Regions from separate parts of the Homo sapiens genome. Here regions 2, 3, 4 and 5 are each linked to region 1. The links come from fine-mapping of genetic effects on gene expression. A gene starts in region 1. Each other region holds a variant in brackets. All regions are shown on one strand. Distances are between the middles of the regions.

Region 1 (5,107 bases):
AAGGGGCTCACTCAGGACCTGTTTGTTGAAAGCAGGAACATTCCGATGAAGGCCAGCCTCATGTGACGTGGAGTTCTGGGAAAGTAAGAAACTCCCACGGACCTTCATAAACGTACACAAATATTTACTCTGCACAATCAATTACAGGCATTAAAAAAAATACTGCCAACCTTGGTAGTGGGGCTTAGGATATTTCAATTTTAGTTTGGAAAGCACAAGAAGTGGGATGGGAAGGTGAGAGAGTGAGAATTGTGGCTAACACCGTCATCGAAGAGTGTCTGGTCAGACTTCCTTCCATATATGATCATTATGTACTGGATATTAAGGAACACATCAAAGGGATGGGTTCCTCTTCATCTATTAGACAGTGTACATTTGTAGCTGCAGCAGTTAAGACCCACCTCAATGACAACCCACTGACCAAGGATCTGCTCCGGATTGTAGTGGATTTGTGCCTTAGGGATCAAAATGCTGGAGGAGATGTGGTTCTTCTCCTCAAGGCCCTTATAGACAATGAAACACGCAATAAGGTGAAATGTGATCATGTCCTCCCTAGGCACTCCCAGGAAAAGTTCCTTCACGGCTGCTCCTCCTGCAGGGTTTTGTTGAGTACACAGGAGATAACATTGATACCTCTTGTAGAGTATCTACAACATATGAGGATACACCTGTGAGTTGGTGAGCTCTTGAAAAGCCGAGCCTTATGTCCTGTGCATTTTATATTCCCAGCACCTAGTATGGTCTGGAACATCAGAGGATCTCCATAAATCTGTTTTTTTTTTTTTTTTTTTGAGACGGAGTCTCACTCTGTCACCCAGGCTGGCGTGCAGTGGCATGATCCCGGCTCACTGCAAGCTCCACATCCCGGGTTCACACCATCCTCTTGCCTCAGCCACCCGAGTAGCTGGGACTACAGGTGCCTGCCACCACAGGCGCCTGCCACCACGCCCGGCTAATTTTTTGTATTTTTAGTAGAGACTGGGTTTCACCGTGTTAGCCAGGAAGATCCTGATCTCCTGACCTTGTGATCCTCCCGCCTCAGCCTCCCAAAGTGCTGGGATTACAGGCTTGAGCCACCGCGCCCGGCTTCATAAATGTTTGTTAAATGAATACATGACAATCTTGTAAATGCTGATAATGGGGTGACAATTGGGAAACTCATCAAAACCTGGAGTGCTCAGGAATTGTATTATGTCACAGGATTGCTTCTTGACCTGTTTAGTTATATCTAATCCCACAGATTATACCTATAATTTAAAAAGATACGAAAGATTGTATAATGTGTACATGCTTCAGATCACAGAGAAATATAGTGTGGGAAGGACCGCCTCTATTTACCTTTTAACAGGGCTGTGTTCTAGGAAGTGTTTGTGATAGGGAAGTAGAGATAACACTTTTTCTTCAGGAAGAAGTCTGACTCTAGAAGGGGAGAAACTGAAAGCCCCAATCCAGTCTCAGGGAACCCAGCTCAAAACTCTGACAAAAAAGCCTGCTCAGGAAATTCTACGGTGTGGCTGGAAGGTAAGTTAGAGGCTGCCTCCACCTGCTTTATTATTCCTGCGTATAGATGACTGTTGCTGTCCATTTAGGCAGAGTCAATTCCAGTCTAGCTTAAAAGATTCTTCTGAGACCCTTTAATCTTTCAGCATCTAATTCAAATGTCAAGCAATTTACAATAATAGTTTCAAATAATGCTTCCTCACAGGTGAGTCAACATTTCTAAGAAAGCAGAAAAGTTGGGTATAAAAAGTTCAATTCTTCCTCGTCGGAAAAAAGATGCAAGACATTTCTACCGTGGGCTGAGCGCTGCCTGGAGGGCAGGGAGGAAGGGGTGAGCGGACCGCGCTGGGATGTGGGTGCCTGGAACTGCCAATCTCTCCGTTTTCCCCTTGGCTCCTAAAGGTCTCTTAGCAGCATTTCCTGCACGCTGGCACCCCCTGTCCTCCTAACGTTTTACTGCCTGCGTGTTTCTCTGTGCTTCCCCACCCTCCGACCCACAGGGCCCGGGGCGCCCTCCGGGGGCCGGCACACAGCAGGGTCTCGCTTCCTCGCGCTGTCTTCTTCAGATGGGATCACTTCGACTTGCGGCCGTTTGGGCGTTCGCGGGGCCTCGGCGATTCTGTGGCGTCCTGGGCTGTGTATGTAGCCCCAGCGGCCGAGGCTCACGGATCCGACCGCCCGGCCGCCGCGTCTGTCCCAAGTTGGGAGACGGGAGGGCCGGGTGGGGTCGCGCCTGCGCCAGGGGGCGGCTCAGAACCAGACTCGCGGTTTTTAACTTATTCCTCAGAGGGGCGAAAGCGAGTCTCGACAAGGACGGCGACGGCTCTCTAGAAGCCGGGGTCCAGGTAGGCTGCCCGGCCCTCGAGCTCGCCCAGCGCCGCTCATGATGCGCCCCGCAGCCCCCTCCCCAAGAAGGGCGTCCGGGCCCCTCCTGGACGCGCAGCTCCCGCGCGCCGCGGGGCCTGGGAACAGCGCACCGGCTGCGCCCGGAGCCGGGCGGACGGTGAGACTGACGGCGTCCGCGCCCAATCGTGGGGCGGGGCCGAGGGGGCCTGCAGGCAGCGACCAATGGGAGCCCGCAGAGCGGGCGGGGGGCGGTGCCGCTGGGCGGGCGGGCGGTGGCATCGGGAGCCGGCGCGGCAGACTGGGAGCCCGGGAGGAGCTGGCGGAGCGAGAGGAGGAGGAGGACGGAGGAGGAGCACCGCGCCCCCGCCGGCCGCCCGAGCGCAGGCCGAGAGCTCCAGCCGCAGCCAGCGGGTCCGGGCCGCCTCCGCCGGAGCCCGGCGCGGGGAGAGTCCGGGCCGATGGGCAGCCCCGGGCAGCGGCGGGCGGCGAGGCGGCAGCCCGGGTACGCGCCGCCCGGCGCGCACAGGCTGTAGCAGGTTCCGGCGGACGGCGTTGCGAAGGTTCGTGTCGGGGAATCCGACGGGCAGCGTGGCGAGGGTCGGTTCGGGATGCCTGCGGCCAGGCGGGGACTGTCCCGAAGGGGAAGGGGATGCCCTTCGGGGCGCTTTGGGGGGCTGACGGCGGCGAGGGGTGCGAGGGGCGCGGGGGTGCGAGGGTCGCGGCGCAGGGTCCGGCTTGTAGACGCAGATGCGCCCGCGCTCCCGATCCCCGGCTGGAAGAGGAGCCGCCGCCGCCTGTTCTCTCCAAGTTATCGATCGGCTGAAAGGTTATTCCCGTCTCGGCGACACAGGCACTGAGGAGGGTCTTCTCCAGGTGCCCAGAACTTCGCTCTGACTAACGCTCTCTGGAAGGGCTCGCGGTTGCCCGACGCAGCTTCCCCGGCGCGCCTGGCCAGCTGACGCCGAACTTGCTGCGGGGCTAATTCCCCTTCTAGAGGGGGTGCGCCCGGAGCGCGCGCCCTCACCGGGACGGATCCCTCTTTGTAAGACCGGGAGCCTCCGGCGAGCGCTCTTCTCACTCACCGCGACCTTTCTTCCCACTTTGCCAGCTCCTGGGCCTCTCCGGGTCTTCCCGTGTCAGTGAGGGTAGTTTGCCCACGTCCTGGGAATATCCCTGGGAACACCTACAGATTAATTTTCAGCCGTGCCGCAAACCCAAAGAATCAATTTCGGCTCATCATCTGCAAGAGAGAGCCGAGGCTTCTCGGAAAGAGAGAACAACTTGGCATTACCCCTGTGGGAGATATTTGTCATCATTAACCTGCTTGAGTTAAATTAATTCAGCCCAAGATGACTCTGGCCTGAGTATTGGAAAAAATCAAGTGCATTGGTTACGGAATTGTGCTCACCAAAACATGATTTTGGTCAAAACAAAATTGTAGACATTTTGGATTTTGGTTAGATTGAGACTGGGTTTTGACAAGGATGGCTTTTTTTTAAAAAAAACAAGGAAAAAAACCCTCAAAGAATCTTGGTGATTCTCATGTCTTTGCCCAGTAAGTTCAAAATAGTCGCACAGATTTTTCTTTTCTTTGCCTCTTTTGTCTGCAGTCTCCATTCTAAACGTTAACACTAGATGGCTTTCTTATGACAGACATTTAGTAAACTGCCCATTTGAGTCGCGTTTGTGTGCAGCCTAGGTTGTAATTTTTCTAGTGTTACAATTAGTAATTGAAGAAAAAAGATCTCCCAAACTGTTGCTTTTTATTGCTTTCCTAGAAAACCTACACATACCGATATTTTTGCGGATATTGAGAGGTGGCCTATTATTTTTGGCATTCCCAAAGTTGAATTTCAAGAGACAACTTGGTTACTGTATTTAGTTACATCATTTAAGAATGCTTGTTTCATGTTTGGACTTATTTAAAGAATTCAGAGTTCTGTTAGTTTTGTCATTCTGTTTAGACAATATTTCCAGTTAAAAGATGTTTACCGCTTGATTGAATTTCACTGCTTGATTCAGAGTTATAAGAGAGTATTATTCATGAGAAAAATGCAGTCTTTCTTAAGTTTTGGGTATAAATCACATTGATTCTTCCTAAAAGATTCCATTGATCCATTTTGGGAAGAGATGCAGTTAAAGTATCTGCATGATTCATACCAGGGATTGTGTTAGGGACATCTCCCCAGAGGATGTTTGATTTTTTCATTTCTAAGCACAAGCCCTTTTATGACAAGCACAATAGCCCGTAGTTTCAGCAGTAACAGCAGCAGCAGCAGCAGCAGGCTCCCAGTTATGTTTTTAAGCACTTTTATTCTAAAGCAAGATCACGGCAGCCTGTCCAAATCTTGCCTAGGTAGGCAAACTTATTTATACGCTGAGTAAATATCTTGAAATTATCTTTGTAGCTATCATTTATTGTGTGCCTTGCCCAGCTTAAAATAAGACATACTGAATTTGTTCTAAATTAGAGTGTATTCATAAATAGCTGAAGGAAAAAGAAGAAAAACTACAGAGCAAACATCTGGGAAGTAGGAAATGAAATCAGAAACAGCTTTTATCAGTACCCACATTCTACCTATAGATGGGGTGAAATGAACCTGGATAAGAAGCAGTGTAAGCACTTGATCCGGAAAAGCAAGAGCTAGATCACAGGTATGGGGGTGGAGCTTCTGGCTTTTAGTATGGGCCACAGATTTTACCCAGTTGCTTTAAGTATATGTTTTTCATTAGATGCTTTTTATGTTTTGAAATCATAGAT
Region 2 (5,107 bases), 220 kb after region 1:
TCTAATTAGTCAGATGTGTTCACAAGCAGCTGCATGCAGTGTTCTGGGCAGGTTCAGAAAAGGCACATTAAAGTCCAGTTGAAGCCTTTTTAGAACTTGTCCTCAGATGCGTAATAAGTTCTTAACAACGAGTATTATTAATGACATAAACACTTAAGTACCTTGATGAGAGTTTAAGGAGAAAAAGAAATGGAAAAGGTCCATTCATAGCCAAAGGAAAACCACCCAACATTGAATACAGGGTGGGTGAGTGGTTTCTGCTTTAGCCATTGATAAAACTACCTTACTAAGTCAGAAAGGTAATCCAACCACTATGTGTGTGCTTTGTATATCAAATAGCATCCTCAATCTCATGTATTGATAAAAGCAAAGTTGGTCTTACTACATTTTTATAATCAATTGGTATTTGAGGCATCTCAAGTTTGTGGTGCTCAGCTTAGAAGTGTTCCTCAGTAAGCTTTATGAATCAGGATGGAGATTGTTCCAATACTTCTTACAGCAACGTAAACCCTGCAACACTTTTAAAAAGAGGAAGGTCTCCCCTGAAGAAAATGAGGATTTGTCTTGCAATAGTCAGACCTGGATGTACTCAAAAGAAGCCCCCTGGAAGAAAACCGCGAAATTACAATAGTGTACAGAGGCTTGATTCTAATCTTCCTGCCATCCCTGCCCTTACATGCTGGCCAACCTCTCACTAGTGCAGACTCGCCTGCTTTTTACAAACCTCCATTTTTCCAGCTAGATCCCTTTTGGGCAACTGCAGCCTCATGTTTTCTTTTTCCATTAAGAGCAGGAAAAATTATCTTGGCCACTTTGGGAGGGGATGGTGGTTCCTGTGCTGACTGACTCACTGGGAGGGGATAGCATTGCCTGTGCTGTGCTCCGACTGACTGACTCCTGACTGACTCTGGGAGGGACAGTGGTGCCCGTGTTCTGACTGACTCTGGGAGGGACAGTGGTGCCCGTGTTCTGACTGACTGACTCTGGGAGGGACAGTGGTGCCCGTGTTCTGACTGACTGACTCTGGGAGGGACAGTGGTGCCCGTGTTCTGACTGACTCTGGGAGGGACAGTGGTGCCCGTGTTCTGACTGACTGACTCTGGGAGGGGCAGTGGTGCCCGTGTTCTGACTGACTGACTCTGGGAGGGACAGTGGTGCCCGTGTTCTGACTGACTCTGGGAGGGACAGTGGTGCCCGTGTTCTGACTGACTCTGGGAGGGACAGTGGTGCCCGTGTTCTGACTGACTGACTCTGGGAGGGACAGTGGTGCCCGTGTTCTGACTGACTCTGGGAGGGGGCAGTGGTGCCCGTGTTCTGACTGACTGACTCTGGGAGGGGCAGTGGTGCCCATGTTCTGACTCACTCTGGGCTGGTGCCCGTGCTGTGACTGATGACTGACTCTCTGGTTTTGTTTCTGTTTAGATGAGTTCTGGTTCTCCGATGGGTCCTTATCAGATAAGTCCAAGTGCGCAGATCCTGGCCTGATGCCCCTCCCGGACACAGCCACAGGGTTAGATTGGACCCACCTCGTGGATGCTGCACGGGCATTTGAAGGTAAAGACTCACCAGCCTCTGGCCTCACCCCTTACCCTGGGAGTGCTTTCCTGCAGGGCCTGTGCGGCATCTTAGGGGAGCCCGTCTGTCTCCCATCGTCTGGTCAAAGTTTTGAATGTTTTGCCTTGTTGGATGATGAAAACAAGCAGGGGCTGGCTTGGGCTGTGAGGACATTTCCTGAGGGAGATCATGTCATTTAGTAAAAGGAGCACTAGGCAAGAAATCTGAAAACCCGAATTCTAGCTCTGGCACCATTTGTGACCTGGGTGGGACCTCTGTTTCCTATCTGAAAAGTAGAGGTGATTGTATGGAGAGCACCTTGCGTCTTTCCTCATAGCATACTGAGGTATAATGTGGGGGACACATTTAGGAGGCGGGAGCTGCTGGGCTTCGCCGGAC[A/G]AGCACAGGCCGAGAAGTCTGTTCACCTGGCGTAAACACAGACTCCAGCGTGATTGGCTTGACCCATGCAAGTGTCTTTGGCTGTTGAGGCCTCGGCTTCTTCCTCTTAAAATGTGGGTCAGTGAGGGTAGGTGGGCTAGCCAATCTCTAAGAGCCATCCAGCTGCCACACTGTCTTCTGTCATTTTTGGTTGAGGCTACCCCTTCAGGAACACCTTTGTCCAGCTCGCAGATAAAGGTAGACAAAACAAGGAAGATGCTTGCTTCACGTGCAGCCTCAGGACCTCACGGTGATACTGTGTAAACCTGGGGCCCTCGGGATCGTGACTTATGACGTTTTGCCCTTTGCCGCTGCATTCTTCAGTGAGTTTTTACGATGGCAGGCTCTGGCACTGGGGAACCTGGCAGCTAGGACTGACAAAGGAGGCAGGATCATTTTAGTAGGGGCTGTTTAATGCCCTGCGCTCTGTGAGACTCTCATGGTGTAACTGAGTCACAGCATCCTGGAGGCGCCCGAGTCCACTGCTGCCTTCTCAGGCCTCAGGGCCCTTCCTTCTCTTTCTCACTCCCCATTTCTTTTCCCTTCTCAGTCTCTGCTAGCACAGCCCCATCACCTGTGACACCAGGCCTCAGGAAACAAAATCAAATTCTTTTCCCAGGAGGGGAGGTGCATTTGAAGTCAAAATGCGGAAGGTTGAGGGTTCACTGCCCCTCATCTGTGACTAGCGTAATGCGTTAGGGAGGCCCGATGGTGGCTTCGCTCTACCCAGCTGGTATCAGTGCCTCTGGTCCTGAGCCTCTGGGAACAGGAGTTGGAATCCACTCTCAAGTGGACACAGGGGAAGTAGGTGAAAGGCAGCTTGCTAGGAGGAAGCTTCTGCAACATGAATGTGCGCTCACTGCTCCCTAAATGGAAGGAACGAGACTGCTTTCTTTACAAACCACTCAGTCCTTGTAGAAATTTCAGAAGAGCCCTGTCTGCCTGTCTGCCTTGTGGGGAGACCCTCATTCTCTGATGCTACCAGAAGTTAGTTGCATATTTTAGAAGCCCCAGGCTGGTGGTCTAGTTGTTTCCTGGGCTCCCCATGCTTCTAGCACTTTCTTGGGCATGACCCAGCACCAGAGCACAGGGACGCTGTCTTTACCTCTGTCCAGAGCAACCCAGAGGGGAGGTAACACCATTTTCTCTTTCCCTGGGGTGTTCTTTACACACTACAGTCTCTCACTCTGACCAGATCTTTCTGCCCCAGGAGAGATTAGACCAGAGATAAGATCTCTGTGTGGCCTCACTGTGTAACTATCTGCAGAGTACTGAACGCACTGAATTCTGCTTCATTCTCATGCCTGTCTCTTAAGAGATGAGTTTCTTAAGAGAAGGCTGCCTCTTTTATTATTTTATCTGTATTTGTCAAAAATACATATCAAGATAACCAAAGGAGAAGCGCTAGTAACAAGGAGTAAGTAGGTATTCAATACACACAGTTTTACACAGCCCAGAACTATCCCAGCTCATAGCACAGCTCTCAACCTCTTATATCCTTTTGCATTTTGTGATCACCTTTCAGATTTCAAACAATATTTATCACCTTATCTCTGTATCTACCCTTGTTTATGTCTTTACTTGGTTCCCTTCCACCCCTTTCAAATGTTCCTTCAGAACAGAATGACTGCTAGAAAATGCATTTTTTTTTCCAGGGGATTAGAGAAGGCAAAATGGTGCATGGACTGAATGATCAATTTAGGGATTTCGGTCATAACTTCAGCCATTTCTGGGCCATAGGCCTTTGGACAAGTCACTTAACTACTATGACATCCACACTTTGTCCCAATACTCTTCTAGGTCTTTTACAAATATGAACTTGGTGAATGTTAAATAGTAATCCTTTTGGACATGTGCTGAATTAATTTGGGCTTCAGTCTTCTCATCTGTAAAATGAAGAACCAAAGAACCTGTAAGGAAAGCTTCATCTAGTCCTAAACCTCTAGTTCTGTGGTTTCATTATCAACAAGTATTTCTAAGCTGAAGTAAGAGTATGGGTGGTAGTTGGCACAGAAGGGAAAAAGTATGACATGGAAATTCTCCCTAGCCAGTGCCCTCAGGTACATGAATGCCTAAATTAAACAGAAAATAATGTAATATTCTATTTGCCAAAGGAGAAGACTTTGGTTATCTGAGCTTTAACATTGATAAAATAATGTGGAAGGAGTTACCACTGACCCCTAACATTGATAGATAAAATAATGTGGGAGGAGTTAGCATTGACCTCTAACATTGATAGATAAAATAATGTGGAAGGAGTTAATGACGTGTTTAATTTTTGATGCTGCTCCATAGGGTGGCATGTCATGGTGAGACAGTAGCCAGCTTATGAAAATTTGGTTGAGTATGTGTACCTCCTTTGGCTAATCAGGTTCCCTTGTATCAGTGTTGCCTCAGGTTGTATCCCAGTGACCTGCTCCCCTGTCTCGTGAGTTGCATGGTGGTGATGAGCGTGATCAATCTCCTTAGCACTTTTAAAGAGAAATGTCTTCAGGTAGATAACCCAGTTGCCCTGCTCATAACTTTATCTTTTTGTACCAGTTCTCAAGGCCATTTCTGAGCTAGAGTAAACATTATAAAGAAAAGATAACCCAAAACATGTCCATGTACTTGTTTATGTTATTGCTGCAAACTAACAAAGGCAGTTCAAAAGGCTTATTGCCTCAGACTTCCTTGGAATAATCCTGTGCCCCTATTTCAGTTAGTATATCTGAAAATAGGCTTGGAAAATGGAATTTACCTGCCTATTGGATTGAGATCCCATGATCCCTATAAAATCCAATAGTGTAATTGATCCCTGGCAGACTTGCCTCTCCCCCATTAGTCTACCTCGTTTATGCTACACATTTTGGCATATGATATGTTCACCTTCATTTAAGGGCTAAAGTTGACATTGGATGCGAGTTTAAGAATTTAGATTTTACTATACCACTATACTATACCAATTTAGAGCAGAGGCACCAAATTAAGCTGTCAAATCATGACTACTTAAATGTTTAAACTCTATTCGTGCAAGGACCATAATAAATGGTATAGTTGTGGGTGAGAGTCAGGTATTCTGTGCATAAGGACTCAGTAAGCTCCCTCCAAAAAGGAGGCGTGTTTCCAGACCACA
Region 3 (5,107 bases), 26 kb after region 1:
GGTACTATGCTTTTTGACATTTATGTTAAAAATAAAAATTAGCTAATTTGTAAGTTATGAGGTCTCAAAAAAAAGTTCATTCCTCTTTCACGCCTGTTAATGCTTCTATTAAAATTCTGAAATGGCTTATTAAATTAAGTGCAGTGTCAAAGGCTAATTGTCTCTTTGTGAATTAGTCTACATGACTTATGAAAGCATGTTTTAAGAATTATGTTTGAATAGCAACTCTGAAGTCAATTTTTAGTATCTATCAAATTGTAATGATAGTAGATGAAAAGTATTAATAGATTATGAGGTCCTTTCTCTTGCTGTTACAAAAGATGCCTATAATATATATTTGTTGTTAATGTACTTGAAATTTCTTGAACTCAGTAGCATCATGTGTCTGAGACACTGATATGAATATGTGGTTAGAATGTGCTGTGTGTGCTACAGCATTGTCTGATGGATCAGAAAGCAGCAACTGTGTCTGACTGTGGCACAGGCAGTGCACGTATGTGTGATGTGTGTAAGAAGTCCTATCATATTGTTGGAGAATCAGAAATCCTGTATTTTTTATTTTTATCTTAATGTAAAAATTGTATTTCACAAGCCAGTATAATTTTAGTGGAATGAATGTGAGGCTTGGAGTACCTTATTTTTTTGTTTTTTGTTTTGTTTTGTTTTGTTTTGTTTTTAAGACAGAATCTCGCTCTGTCGCCCAGGCTGGAGTGCAGTGGCGCGATCTTGGCTCACTGCAACCTCCGCCTCCCAGGTTCAAGCGATTCTCCTGCCTCAACCTCCCAAGTAGCTGGGATTACAGGCACCCGCCACCATGCCCGGCTAATTTTGTATTTTTAGTAGAGACAGAGTTTCACCGTGTTGGCCAGGCTTGTGTTGAATTCCTGACCGCAGGTGATCCATCCGTTTCGGCCTCCCAAAGTTCTGGAATTACAGGCGTGAGCCACCACACCCAGCTGGGAGTAACTTCTATTCAGTGTCTTTTGAACACCTACCATGGTTTGTTCACTGTGATATTCCATGGTTTGAACCTGAAGTCTGTACTACCTTGGGTGGCTGGGCACAGTGGCTCACACATGTAATACTCCTGGCACTTTGGGAGGCCAAGGAAGGTGGATCATTTGAGCCCAGGAGTTTGACACCAGACTGGGCAACATGGAGAAACCCCGTCTGTACAAAAAGATACAAAAATTAGCTGGGTGTGGTGATGTATGCCTATAGTCCTAGCTACTCAGGAGACTGAGGTGGGAGAATCACTTGAGCCCAGGAGGTCAAGACTGCAGTGAGCCATGATTGAGCCACTGCACTCCAGCCAGGGAGACAGAGCAAGACCCTGTATATTAAGTCAGTTCTTGCATTGCTATAAAGAAATACCTGAGACTGGGTAATTTATAAGGAAAAGAGGTTTAATTGGCTCACGGTTCTGCAGGCTGCACGGGAAGCATGATGCTGGCCATCTCCTTGGCTTCTGGGGAGGCCTCAGGAAACTTATAATCATGGCGGAAGATGAAGTGGAAACAGACAGGTCTTATATGGCCCACACAGGAGGAAGAGAGGAGAGGGGTTATGTGCCACACACATTTAAACAAACATCTCCTGAGAACTCCATCATGAGATAGTACTAGGAGGCTGGTGCTAAACCATTAGAAACTACCCCCATGATCCAGTCTCTCCCACCAGGCCTCACCTCCAACATTGGTGATTACAATTCAACATGAGATTTGGGTGGGGACACAGATCCAAGCCACATCACTCTGTCTCAAAAAAACCAAACCAAACCAAAACAAAACCCAAACAGATACACCACCTTGGGCAAGTTGAGCCTTGATTCTCACATCTTGAAATGGGGATTAGAGTATCTATTGTGAAAGATTGTTGTGAGATTCTGATAATGCTTGTGAAAGTGCTTTGTCAAGTGCCTGGCACATAGTAGGTGCACAGTAAACTATAGTTACTTTTCTGCGTTATTGAACATCTGGTATGTGTTAAATAACTTGTCTGCCTACACTGGAGCAGAGTGAGAGGAGGCGGCTGGAAAGGAAATGAATACAACAGACTATAAAAGTGGAGTGAATTTTAGTGAACGAAGAGGTTTTTAAAGTCAAAATACAAAAATTGTATTCAATGATGAATATTCTTCTCATTAGTGATAGTGAGTCAAAACAAAGTTGATTTGAAGGGAGTTGGTGTAGATTCTCACAGGGGAAGTTCCCTTATGCTTTACCACGTGCTGGAATCTTTTGAAGATTCTTAAACTGATAAGCAAGAGTCTGTGGATGCGTTGTATCCTTCTGCTTGATGTAATTAATCCCTGTGGTGGAATCAGGTTGATTTGTTTGAAAAATGCCATTCAGCAGGTCTTAAAAAGCATAGTCTGATTGTGGATTTAGTAAATATGATGTCCACTTCTGTGAAATTCCCTGCTCGCTTCACTTCTGTATTTCAGAAGGTCTCTTTCTGCTGGGTACCCTTTTACTTAGTCGTCAAAAATAGGTAACTTGAACTTTTCTGATAGTTTCTATTGGGGCCTAGAAGAAATGGTCTCAGTAAAGACTTGGGGTATAATGATGTGGCTGGTGTTAGAGCAGGGCCTGAGTGCCCCATGTGGATCTAATGGTCACCTGCATCAGTGGATGGCAGGGCCTGGAAGGAGAGGTGGGTTTCCATGACCTCGCTGCTGTGATCCTAACCATCCCCCAGCTCTCCCACACCTCTGAACCCTGCTGGTGCTGCCCCAGTCTTGTCTTCCACCCATGGCTTTCGTCATCTGGCCTTCCCTCCCGGCTCTGTGGGTCCTGGTATTGCCAATCCTACGGCTT[GTC/C]CTCAGGCCGCATCCTCTGTTGCTTTCCGCTCCTCTTGACCCTGAGTGACACCCTGCTGTTCAAACGTTTACCTCTGCGCCTCGTTCTCCTCCCTCCCCTGGTCGTTTTTCTTCTACCCTTGCTGGCCTCTCCACCTCTCAATGCCTTTTAAACACTGGGGTCTCATGATCTTATTGTCACTTTGCATGATCGATCACACCTCCCTAAGTGGCATCTTTCACAGCCTCTGGAAGGAGACCTCCAGATCTTTACCTGTCTGGCCTTTCTCCAGCTGTCCCTAGTCGTCTTCCTTGGATCTTCTCAATACATTTCACAGTAAATAAATCCTTTCCGGATCTGTTGTCTTCCCCCCAGATCTCTGTTGCACTCTGTTCTTTGTCTTAGTATGTGCTGTCACTGTCAACATAGGACGCCCAGTTAGACGAAGCTTGTTGTCCTCCCTAACTCAATCCTTATACCACGTGTCTGGTTGGTCACCAGCATCCGCTAATTCTGCATCAGAAATGCCTTCGAATCTGTCTTTTTTATCCCCCCTGCTCCTGCCTTACTTAGGACATGTCATCCTTCATTGAATTTTGAAATAGCTTTCTAGCTGGTGTGTTCAATATGGTAGCCACCAACTGCATGAGGCCATTTAAATTTAGGTTAACTAAAATTAAATAAAAATAAAAATTCAGTTCCTCATTCTCACTAGCTACCTTTCAGGTGCTCAACGGCCCCATGTAGCTGCCATACTGGGCATTGCAGGAGTAACATTTTCATCACTGCAGAAGTTTCTGTAGATACCGCTGTCTAGCTCATCTCTCCGTCTCCAGTTGTCTACTCTGCCCATTTCATCCTTCATATTGCTGCCAGCATTTTCTGCGTGGAAACAGTCATCTAGTTATGAGCCTTCCCTGCTTAAATAACCTTCTGAGGGTGGCCAGAGGCAGTGGCTCACGCCCGTAGTCCCAGCACTTTGGGAGGCCGAGGTGGGTGGATCACGAGGTCAGGAGTTCAAGACCAGCCTGGCCAAGATGGTGAAACCCCATCTCTACTAATAATACAAAAATCTGCTGGGCATGGTGGCGTGCACCTGTAATCCCAGCTACTCTGGAGGCTGAGGCAGAGAATAGCTTGAACCTGGGAGGCAGAGGTTGCAGTGAGCCAGGATCGCACTACTGCACTCCAGCTTGGGCAACAGAGTGAGACTCCATCTTAAATAAACAAAACAAAACAAAAAACCTTCTGAGGGTGCTTGAGTAAAATCTGCACCCCTCAGCATGGACTGTAGGTCCTCAGAGCCTCCCCTCTCCTCCCACACCACTCTCCTTGGTCTCTAGACTCAGAGGCTCCTGCCCCTCACCTCTCATCCAGGTTGGCTTTGCTGCTTCTCTGCCTGTGCACAAGCTCTTCTTGTTGCTTGGAATGCCCACCTCCTTGTCTTCAGTCTTGCCTGCACTTTCTCTCTGGTAGTGACTTCCCCTCCTTGCCTTGTAGCATTTGTTTACTAGGCCACCTTCTCCATGCGAGGGCTTTTCTCAAGGGCATGGTCTTCAAAGGTTTTTGTCTTTGCACCCTCTGAAATAATTTTTAAAAAACATATACTCCTTCACATGCTTGTAAGGTGACATCCCATATTTTAAATCATAAATAATAGTATGTTTTTGTTAATAGCAAGTAGGAATTGTTAAACATATTATGAGATGAAAATAATATGAAGATTGACTTAGTTTGATATACCTTTTACAATAGAATTTGAGATAATTGATTTTATCTACCTGGTTGAAAAATGTACTGTAAAGAATACAAGTAAAATTGTTACCTTTGACATTTCTGTAACTTGGCTTGAACATTTTGGCGTTTGGTGTGTTGGGGGTGTGGAATTTCAGAAACATTTAAGAGCATCTATGCCATTAAACCTGTATGTCTTCAGTTTTTCTGAATCCAGAACATCCCCAAATGGGCCAAATTTCACCCATAACAGAAATGTGTTGAAGACACATAAAAACTGGAAGCCATATGGATTCAAGGGACCATGGGCTATAATTAATCATCAAAGAAGACATCTTGATGATCAGTGTTTTGAGTTATCCTTTGTTTGGTGCCCTGAGGTGTTTTAAACTTTGGAAGAATGCCCCATAGTAAGATTTCAGGGAGAGTGGAGCTGTTGCAAAGACAGGAATGCCCGTCTGTTTTCAGAAAGAGTTACATAGGGAAGGTGAGGGTCTCAAAATTGATTCTGTAGGAGGATTGCTTGGGCCCAGGAGATTGAGACTAGCCTGGGCAACATAGGTGTTAGCTAT
Region 4 (5,107 bases), 260 kb after region 1:
ATATAAATATATAATACAAAATATATTAATATTATATATAATACAATATATTATATATTGTATTATATATTATATACAATACAAAATATATTATATATTGTATTATATATAATATATAATAAAATATATTATCTATAATACATAATAAAATATATTATATATAATACAAAATATATTATATAATGTATTATATATTATATGTAATAAAATATATATAATACAATATATTATATATTGTATTATATAATATATAATACAATATATATTATTATTATATTATATTATTATTATATATTATAATATATTATTATATATTGTATTATATATAATATATAATACAATATAATACATTATAATACATTGTATTATAATACAATATATTATATATTGTATTATATATAATATATAATAAAATATATTATATAGTATTATATATAATATATAATACAATATATTATATAGTATTATATATAATATATAATACAATATATAATATATTGTATTATATAATATATAATACAATATATTATATATTGTATTATATATTATATAATACAAAATATATTGTAATATATATAATACAAAATATATTATATATAATAGAAAATATATTGTATATTATATATAATACAAAATATATATAATAGAAAATATATTGTATATTATGTATAATACAAAATATTATATATAATAGAAAATATGTATAAGTAATTTATACATATTATAAAAGATATATTATTAAAATAATATATATCATTTATATATAAATGGTATATATTTATAGATGAATTTTTTTTTTACTGCAAATTGTTGGAAATTATAGCTTGAGAGATTTTCTGCTGTTTTACATCAACATTTCCTAACGAAGATTGTGTACATTTTGGGCCCAGTTTTTCTGAGTCTTACGTAGATTTCTGCTGACGCCATAGCTGCAACCCAAACTGGAAGAAGATATCCTACCATGCTTAGCCATAAATTTAAATAACTGAACAGTTTATTCACCAGAGCACGACTATCCAGGGTCTGTTTCCTAAGACACAGCAAACACTCTGACGGCCATCCTGGGTTCTCTGCTAACTCACCTGTTCTCCTAAACAGCAAAGGGTCAAAGGACAGGTGGGGAAACCACGGAGCACCTTGCATTCCTCTGCCCCTGTTTTCCTCTCTGCAAGTCCCTTGTGTATTCAGTTTTGCAGTCAGTCTAGCTAAGGAGACTCTGAGTCAGCACTCTCTTCAGCCTTCAAGCACCGCATTGTTGGCCATCTCCTGATTCATGCCATCAAACCCAAGCTTTGCTTTTGACACCAAGATAAGCTTAGTGTAATATGATCATGTCATTGGTTAAAGAAACAGAGCTAAACACCTGTGCATTTTAGCAGAATGGATGTGGCTTCAAGTCTGAAAGTCGACTATCTTGCAGGGTGGTGTTGTCTGCCTCTGCAGTGATGAAAGCAGATGGAGGCAGTAGCTACTGACGGTTACAGAGTCATAGATGCGGAGAGCTGGAAAGGAACTTAGAATTAATCTACACTGTGTCCTTTATCATTTTAAGCATCAATTAAAATTTATGAAATCATACATAGAAACCTACTCATTGAAAAACACCAAACAGCTGTAGAATAAGAGGAACTTTCCATCTTTCATCACATGCCCCATAGTAATGGTGTCTGTGGATCATCATCTATATTTATATACAAGTCTTATATAAATGGGATCTTTCCATGTTTATTATTTTGAGACTTATTTTTTATTCCTTAAGAATAGATCTTGGAGGTCTTTCTATGTCAGTGTGTATTATTTTAACAATTGCATACGATTGCATGGTAGGACTGTCCTGCAGTTCAGGTGATAATCTCCCAGGAACAGACTTTTTGGGGTTTTCCCAGTTTCTTACTATTACAAACAG[T/C]GCTTCCATAAATAATGTTTACTTAAATTTTTGTGCACCTGTGCAGGTATTTTTTAAGGTTAGTTTCCTGAATTGGAACTGCAAAGATCATATGAATATAAAATTACATAAACACTGCCAAATTTTGTTTTTTGTCTTTTTTTTTTTTTTTTTTTTTGAGACGGAGTCTTGCTCTGTCGCCCAGGCTGGAGTGCAGTGGCACCATCTCGGCTCACTGCAAGCTCCGCCTCCCGGGTTCACGCCATTCTTCTGCCTCAGCCTCCCGAGTAGCTGGGACTAGAGGCCCCTGCCACCACGCCCGGCTAATTCTTTGTATTTTTAGTAGAGACGGGGTTTCACCATGTTAGCCAGGATAGTCTCAATCTCCTGATCTCGTGATCTGCCCACCTTGGCCTCCCAAAGTGCTGGGATTACAGGCATGAGCCACCATGCCTGGCCGACACTGCCAAATTTTGATCCCAAAAGGATATACCAATTTATCTTCTACCAACATCGAATGAGAGTGAATGTCTTTTCCTGCCAACATTAGATGTTTACAATGTTTTTAATTTTTGTTAATCAAGTAGATAAAAAAGAAATTATATTGCTTATATTGAATTTCCATTAGTATATTTTCAAGTGTTTATTGGCCATATGAATTTCTTTATCTGTTACTTGTTCATATCTTTTTCCCTTAAAAAGCATATGCAAAATCAATAATAAAATTGATTATTTTTTAACTTTTGGTCTTGTAAGAACTCCTTCTGTAGTTTGTGCATTAAGAATTTTTTCTGTATGTTATGAATATATGTTATATAACAGATATAATACATATTTCTTATATATTTCTAATATATAAGACTATATTTTTATAGTCTTGCTCATTTTTAAACTTTATAACATTTTTGTCGTAAATTGTTTTGATTTTCAGGTAAACACAATTGTCTACCACTTCCTTTAGAACATTTAGGTCTTACTTCTTGTTTAGAAAGAACTTCTGCATGCCAAAGTTATAAGATTATTTGCTTATTTTTATAAAACTTATATTATTTTGCCCATTTACATCTTAGGCCAATTTGGAATTTGTTTTTATATATATGTGAGCAGAGTATCTAACTTTATTCTTCTTTCACAGATGAGTAGCCAACTTTTCTGTCACAATGTGTTGAACTAATCGATGAAATAATTTCATAACTTTTCTGCTGATTGGAAATGCGAATTTTACCACATACTGAATTAATATGTTTCTTCTCTCTCTTTTGATGCATGGATTCATTGTCCTATTTGGCTAATCTGGACTATGAATATTCTGGGATTTTTCCTTGTTATTTCTTCTTTTATTATAGTTTTATGGAGATATAATTCACATGTCATACACTCCGTCCATCTAAAAGGTATAATTCAATGGTTTGTATTATATTCACAGATTTGTGCAACCATCAACATATTCAATTTTAGGACATTTCATCACCCCCGAAAGAAACCCTGTACCCAATAGCTATCATACTCATTCTCCATTTCTCCCCAGGCTCACAGGTTCTAGGCAATAACTATTCTCCTTTTTTTCTCTATGGATTTCCTATTCTGGATATATCATAAAAATGGAATCATACACTCTATGGTTCTTTATGAGCGGGTTCTTTCATTTAGCATATGTTCAAGGTTCAGGCCTGCTATAGATACTCCCTTTTTTCTTTTTGTAAACATCATTTATTTTTATTGTCATCTAATATTGCATTTTATGGATATACCATATTCTAACTTAGCCATACCTCAGTTGATGAACATTTGGGTAGTTTCCAGCTTTTGACTACTATGAATAATGCTGCTGTGAGCATTCATGTACTTGTGGACATGTATTTTTACTTCTCTTGGATATATATGCCTATGAGTGGAATTTCTGGGTTATATGGTAACTCTATGTTTAACCTCATTTTGAGGAACTGCCAGACTGGTTTTCACAGCAGCTGCACCATTTTACAATCCTACCAGTACTGTATGAGGGTTTTGATTTTGTCACATCCTGGCCAACATTTGTTATTGTCTTTTTTTATTATAGCCATCTTAGTGAGTGTAAAATGGCATTTCATAGTGGTTTTTATTTGCGCATGACTGATGGCTCTGAGTTATCTTTTTATATGCTGATTGAGTAAATGAGATGTATGCATCAGATGAAAGAGTTCAAACACTTGGGTTGTGGAGATGCATGACACAGAAGCGTGGGTTCCCTGATGACTTTCATACCTGCTTAACTGCAGCAGCATTTACTTGTCATGGAGGAATAAGGCAGGCCTATTTTTAGTCTTCACAACATACTTGTGGACCTTTCGCTTATACTCTTGTAACCTAAATATTTGAAAACACTGACTTAAATATTTTGACTCTCTCTCTTTTTTTTGAGACTGAGCCTTGTTCTGTTGCCAAGGCTGGAGTGCAGTGGTACAATCATAGCCCACTGCAGCCTCAAACTCCTGGGCTCAAGTGATCCTCCCACCTCAGCCTCTTGAGTAGCTAGCACTATAGGCACCCACGCCATGTCCAGCCTTGTTTTTTTTTTTTTTTTTTTTTTTTTTTTTTTTGTAGAGACAGGGGTCTCACTATGTTGCACAGGCTGATCTCAAACTCCTGGCCTCAAGAGATCCACCTACCTTGGTCTCCCAAAGTGCTAGGATTACAGGTATGAACCACTGCACCTGGCCTCAACTCATTTTTTTTGCCATTGCCTACATTTCAGTTAATAGATAAATACTAAAATCCCAGTTTTGTTGAAGTGACTTGCCCAACATATTGAATTTTCAAGAAGGATACCACCAATGTTAGAATCTTTCTCTCTTTTTAAAAAATAATATCTTAAGTTCCCAGATACTTTTATAAGATAGTTAAATTTCTCCAGTCTAACAAACCTCAGATAAGTGGTTTGATGGGTTTGAAGCTACTTCGTTTTTTGTTTTTTATTTTGAGACGGAGTCTCACACTGTTACACCCGCTGGTGTGTAGTGGCGCGATCTCAGCTTGCTGCAACATCTGCCTCCCAGGTTCAAGCAATTCTCCTGCCTCAGCCTCTCAAGTAGCTGGGATTATAGATGCCCGCCACCATGCCTGCTAATTTTTTGTATATTTAGAAGAAATGGGGTTTCACTATCGTGGCCAGTCTGTTCTCAAACTCCTGACCTCATGATCCGCCCGCCTTGGCCTCCCAAAGTGCTGGGATTACAGGTGTGA
Region 5 (5,107 bases), 770 kb after region 1:
ATTCCCCAGAGCCAGCTGAGGATGAGTGGGCACTCAAGAGTTATAGGGTGTATTTTAAAATAGAAATTAGCTTCTGGATTTTGCAGACTTTTCCAGAATACCTCTGACCAATCAATAGCTTTCACAAGGGTGACCCTGAAATTCATCAACGTTTTACATTTCCAGACCCCATCTCTGAGGTTTCTACTTTCCCCAGATACTTGGAGAAACCTGGGAACAAGGCAGGAGTTATTAAAATACTAAGAAGGCCAGAAGCAGGAAGGTATGGAAACTTCTACAGCACTCCCCAGAGAAACGGAACATGAGGAAGAAACTTGGACTTTGCAACATCTTTTTTGAAAGTGAATAGAAAAAGGAAGACTACAGGAATCGACTCCAAATTGTAACCTTCAGCAGAACAACAGAAAAGGTTGTCTAACCCAGCGAGTGTGTGGAATAGTAAATAAGAAGGTTGAGAAAGAGTAGGGAGACAGAGGAAGACAGCATGCGACACAGACCAGAATGAAGACGAGCACCCTTGCCACCTCCAGAGACAGGCAGAGCTCATGACACAAGTTCAAAACAGGGCTCCCTCCTCTTAATAAGGCTTTCAAAAAAGATCCACAGGAAATTAACTGGTTTTATCCACATGGAAGACTGATAATCAGCCCCAAATGAATGATAAATTGACTAACCATTGGAATTACCTGGAGAACTCTGAAAAACATGCTGAGTCCAGGACCACCTTGGACCAAGGGCTCACCTGCTGGGGCAGGTGGCCCGGATGCTTAGCCAGGGAAGAGAGCCATGGCTATAAATAAGCCCTGACTTAATGTCTTGGAAGACAAGACAAGAAATTCAGTGAGGCTATATTTTATGGGGCAACTGAATTATTAATTGAGTTAGTAAAATCTGTTTTATTTTGCTTTTTTGGTGAAACAACTGAACTGACACAAGTGGTTGTTTGCTTGGATGCTTCTCCAGGCTCCATCCACAATTGTGTTTAGCCCGGCAAGCCACTGGAATGAATTTCCCAGCTGCAATTTAACCCGGGCCTATAGCGGCAAGAGTTAGCTGATGTTTTTCTCCCTATGCTCCAGTGCCTTCAGGGAAATTTGACTTCAAGGTGGGGTGGTGGCAGGCACTTAGGTTTCTCCTCTATAAACCTTTTAGAAAATGCTTGGAAATCACAGCCATAGAAACCAAGCAGCATTCTTGAATGCACTAAGCGGCCAGATTCCGGGTAGCCGGTCCACATTCTTTCTCAGTGTGGCCCGTCTAGTTCTGACAGTGAGAAGTCATGGCTGCATTTGGACTGTGCTGATTCCGGAAGAAAGTCAAACAGACTTCAGCTAACTTCAAGATTCTCTGTAACAAACAAACAAACAATTTTTTCAAGATTCTAATCATTCTAGGTTATTGTTTGCCTGTGTTAGTTATAAAATCCCAGCATCACAAAAAATACTTGACAAGGTCCATGGAGAATATCTAGTATAACCCTAATTTTTGCTGTGAGGAAACTGAGGCCCATGGTGTTTAAATGGCATGGCAGGGATCTGGGACAAACCCCACATGTCGTGATTCCCAGGCCAGTGGCGTCTTCACACACCTGGAGTGCCATCAATGACACTTATCCAGATAATCAATTATAAACATTTTAAATCAGTTAAATAGATCAGAGTTTTCCTGTGCTAGACAGGCTATCCATGTCAACACATGACTTCGAAATGTGTGAAAAAGTAAGAGTAGTACTTTAATTTCTGAAATAAATTTGTACTTGGGAAAGTGGGGCTGACATTGGAGCCTGTAGTTCTGGAGGGTCCCCTAGAGCCCTTGCCTTTCTGTTGTGACCAAAACTCACAGAGTGCCTTGACCGCTCTGTGACCCAGACAGCTGCAGGTTTTTCCCAGCAGGCTTGAACCCAAACCAGGGCCTTGAACATTCCCACACATTGATAAAGGTATCTAAGCTTTTGCCCAAAACACTGAAAGAAACTGGCCCTGGCCCTGAGCCAAATTCCTTAAACCCTCATGTAAACTCCATCCCCTGAGCACCTCGCTGTGGATGTTTCTAGGTGGAAGACCCCTTTTTTCATGCTGCCGCCGCAGGATTGCTGCAGCCCACTCTGCCTAAGTTCCCCTAATGAATGCTTTGGCCTGATCACTCCGGCTTTTACTGCTTCTTTCTTTGGAATCTCAGTAGGCCCCATCTTGGGAAAGTTTGGGGCACTCCTTTCTGGGGACTCCCCTGCCACCACCTTTGGGGTAATTCCAATGATAGGTTCAGCAGGATGAAACAAGGTCACAAAATGAAGCTTCAAGAGGATATGAAGGAAAATACCATGACTTCAGTTCCCCACTGAGCAGCACTGGGAACCATTATCATTGCAACCTGCTCACGCAGGGCAGGCAAGCTCCCTGGGCCGCAGCCACATAAAGAAATGGCAGGGGCAGGTTTTCAACTAGAAGGTCATGTGCCTGAGCACAAGAGAATTACCCTGGAGCAGGGACATGAGAGAGAATCAATGCATGGGAACTAACGGGGCTGCAGTCACTGAAAGCACCTGGAAGTAAGCTCATCCTTAAAATAAATATGACAGATTTCCACAATATCCACAATATCGTTTCAGCAACTTTGATTTCAAACAGCATTTCATTACCAACTGCATTTTAATGGGCACCCCGAGAACAGA[G/A]GGGAAGCAGAATAGGGGAAGGGGGAAAGGAGATGATTAACTGCTCTTATGCTCCTGGACCTGCCACCTTCTTCCTGCCTCTTCATTGCACAGTTTCTGCCCTGCATTTTACCATCCACATGCCACAGGATTCATTATGTTCCAATATACTGTGACACATAAATCTGCAATCCAACCGAGAGCTCATAAAGGTCACCATCCAAATTGGGCAACCCATCTCCCATCTGATCATTCTTGCAACTAATGAGCTGTTTAGGCTCACACAGCTTGACAAACATTTGTATGAGTTTATGTTTGCTGAAGCCTTCGGCATATGCACGTCAAGCCAAAAACAAAGGTAGAAGTGTCATCGCCAGATAGTCACCCAGAGAGTGGCAGCCACGACTTTCATGTTCAAAGTGCCATTTTAGGATCTGAGCTTAAACAGTACAGCAGCTGTTTGATTTGGATATCACATAAAATTAATGGCCTAACTAGCAATGAGAACCTTTTTTGGAATATGCACGTGAACATATTCAAGGAAGAAAGATGTGCCTAGGGTTTTTTCAGACTTTGAATCAAGTCCCAAAATAGAGACTTGCTTTTGTGGGCTGTGAAAATGGACCAACTGAAGAGAAAGAAGGGGAAACGTCACTTCCCTTTGGATATAATCACCCTTAAAGTCATTTCATGGAAAGGAAAATAAGCCATCCTTAGGAAGGAGAGAACATAAGGACTCTTGGTTTAAGGGCATGAGGAACATCTCAATTGCTCATCCTCAACCCCTGCCCTCCAATATTTGTGGTTTAGGCTTTATGTTGTAAATGCAAGAAAAGGGACTACTTCATGAAGAGAGTTCAAAAAGAGAAGTGGGATTTCAAGTTTGGGAAGGAGGATTGTTATTTGTGTGTTTGTCTTAATGGAAATTAAGTTTAACTGCTTGCATCAAATGGGGAACATTCTATCACTGTGGATGAAATAACTTGAGCTCATTTATGGAAAGTTATTTTTGTCTTTTTAATGTACTGTTTAATTGACAAAAATTGTATGTATTATATATATAACATGTTATTTTGAAATATACATATGTTATATAGAAAGTTATTTATGAGACACTCTTGTGATTCTTTACAGTACAGTGTAAAGTGAACAAAGACACTTAGAATAAGGTGTAAGTTTTCAAAAGTGTCATTCACAAATTTAAAGATTCACAAAGGACGCTGCATCAACATTGAAAACCAAAATTTTCTTCAACTTTTTAAACTTCTTTTATACTTCCACTAAATAAATTTCTTTCCTTACCTAGAATTTCTTATTTTTCATTTGATATTTCCTCACATTAAAGAATTATTGTAGGGGCCAGGCACAGTGGCTCATGTCTGTAATCCCAGCACTTTGGGAGGCTGAGGAAGGTGGATCACTTGAGGTCAGGAGTTTTAGACCAGTCTGGTCAACATGGTAAAACCCCATCTCTACTAAGAATACAAAATTAGCCAGGCATGGTGGCGGGCACCTGTAATCCCAGCTACTCCGGAGGCTGAGGCAGGAGAATTGCTTGAACTCGGGAGGCAGAGGTTGCAGTGAGCAAGATCGTACCACTGCACTCCAGACTGGGCGACAGAGTGAGACTCCATCTCAAAAAAAAAAAAAAAAAGAATTATTTTAGTTCCTTAGTTTCTTGTATCACATACCTCCAAGTACAGGGTGATACACTACACACCACATAGGAGAGACATAACTTTGAAGTCTAGGATACAAACTTGAATCTTTTCAGAACATAACAACTAGAGGAGGCCTTGCAAAGATTTAACAGCAGGAGGAGAGGCTGACAGCAGGAAGAGCACATGAGAATTCATAGTTATAGCTAAGTGTTTTATTAGAAGGTTTACATATACTGCTCTACCTTTTATATAAAAGAACTATATGGAAATGGATATTAGTAGGTATATTTGCCAGGAGTTTTTCACATATTACACATATTTAACAATTTAACAGGCATTTTACTTTTTAAAAGTTTTACAGTTCTATATATCACATCTATCATATTTCATATTATCACATATATCACTTCAGTTGTCCCTCAGAATGACTAGAATAGGATTTCATGCTCACTTTATAGATGAGGAATTTGAGGCTCAGAGAGAAAAAAATTAGAATGACTTACCCACAATCGCTTAGTAAGAGGTCAGCCGGGATTAAAACTCAGGCCCACCAGACAACAAAGCCCCAGCAGAAGCTAGCCTCATGTTGTTGATTTATGTATTTGTGAGTTGGTTATCAGCCCCAGGGTCATCGTGACCCAAGAATCCCCTTGGGCCGCCCTAGACTGACCACCCCACCCAGGTGGGTGAGCAGCTTGGCCCTTCGTCTAGGAGATTGCTACACTCATCTCAATCCTGTGCAGTAAACAACAGATTATTATTGTCAGTTTAGCTGCTAAAGGAGGTTGTTTAGGGT

Which allele goes with the higher level. Positions count from the first base shown, and alleles are read on the strand shown. Sizes are in standard deviations (SD) of each study's normalised expression. Not every link is listed here.
For the expression in tibial artery of the gene that starts at base 2,642 in region 1, allele A in region 2 goes with a higher level than allele G (small effect, 0.20 SD a copy in GTEx).
With allele A in place of G in region 5, the expression in ovary of the gene that starts at base 2,642 in region 1 is higher (moderate effect, 0.40 SD a copy in GTEx).

What was found. PIP is the estimated chance that this variant, and not a neighbour inherited with it, causes the effect. A credible set is the group of variants that fine-mapping cannot tell apart.
Region 2: its variant is the best candidate, but not a certain one, in a credible set for the expression of SIPA1L2 in tibial artery (GTEx, PIP 0.55).
Region 3: its variant is the best candidate, but not a certain one, in a credible set for the expression of SIPA1L2 in whole blood (TOPMed, PIP 0.75).
Region 4: its variant is the best candidate, but not a certain one, in a credible set for the expression of SIPA1L2 in whole blood (TOPMed, PIP 0.75).
Region 5: its variant is the best candidate, but not a certain one, in a credible set for the expression of SIPA1L2 in ovary (GTEx, PIP 0.56).

What each region holds. Positions count from the first base shown.
Region 1 is chr1:232,627,668-232,632,774 of GRCh38, reverse strand. SIPA1L2 (signal induced proliferation associated 1 like 2) reads left to right here and starts at 2,642. Exons shown (of 23, transcript NM_020808.5): 1 at 2,642-2,906. LOC124904551 (a long non-coding RNA gene) reads right to left here and starts at 2,193. Exons shown (of 2, transcript XR_007066943.1): 1 at 1,339-2,193; 2 at 1-18. RefSeq lists silencers at 2,225-2,704, 2,765-2,864.
Region 2 is chr1:232,411,941-232,417,047 of GRCh38, reverse strand. It overlaps SIPA1L2 (signal induced proliferation associated 1 like 2), which reads left to right. Exons shown (of 23, transcript NM_020808.5): 19 at 1,423-1,554. Among named protein-coding and RNA genes, the nearest start is that of SIPA1L2, 220 kb to the left of the region's middle. The variant A/G (reference allele first, on the strand shown) is at 1,954.
Region 3 is chr1:232,601,264-232,606,370 of GRCh38, reverse strand. All of the region lies in intron 1 of SIPA1L2 (signal induced proliferation associated 1 like 2), which reads left to right. Among named protein-coding and RNA genes, the nearest start is that of SIPA1L2, 26 kb to the left of the region's middle. The variant GTC/C (reference allele first, on the strand shown) is at 2,820.
Region 4 is chr1:232,363,628-232,368,734 of GRCh38, reverse strand. LOC105373196 (a long non-coding RNA gene) reads right to left here. Exons shown (of 3, transcript XR_949273.2): 2 at 1,364-1,502. Among named protein-coding and RNA genes, the nearest start is that of SIPA1L2, 260 kb to the left of the region's middle. The variant T/C (reference allele first, on the strand shown) is at 1,907.
Region 5 is chr1:231,853,916-231,859,022 of GRCh38, reverse strand. All of the region lies in intron 9 of DISC1 (DISC1 scaffold protein), which reads right to left. All of the region lies in intron 12 of TSNAX-DISC1 (TSNAX-DISC1 readthrough (NMD candidate)), which reads right to left. Among named protein-coding and RNA genes, the nearest start is that of DISC2, 38 kb to the right of the region's middle. The variant G/A (reference allele first, on the strand shown) is at 2,672.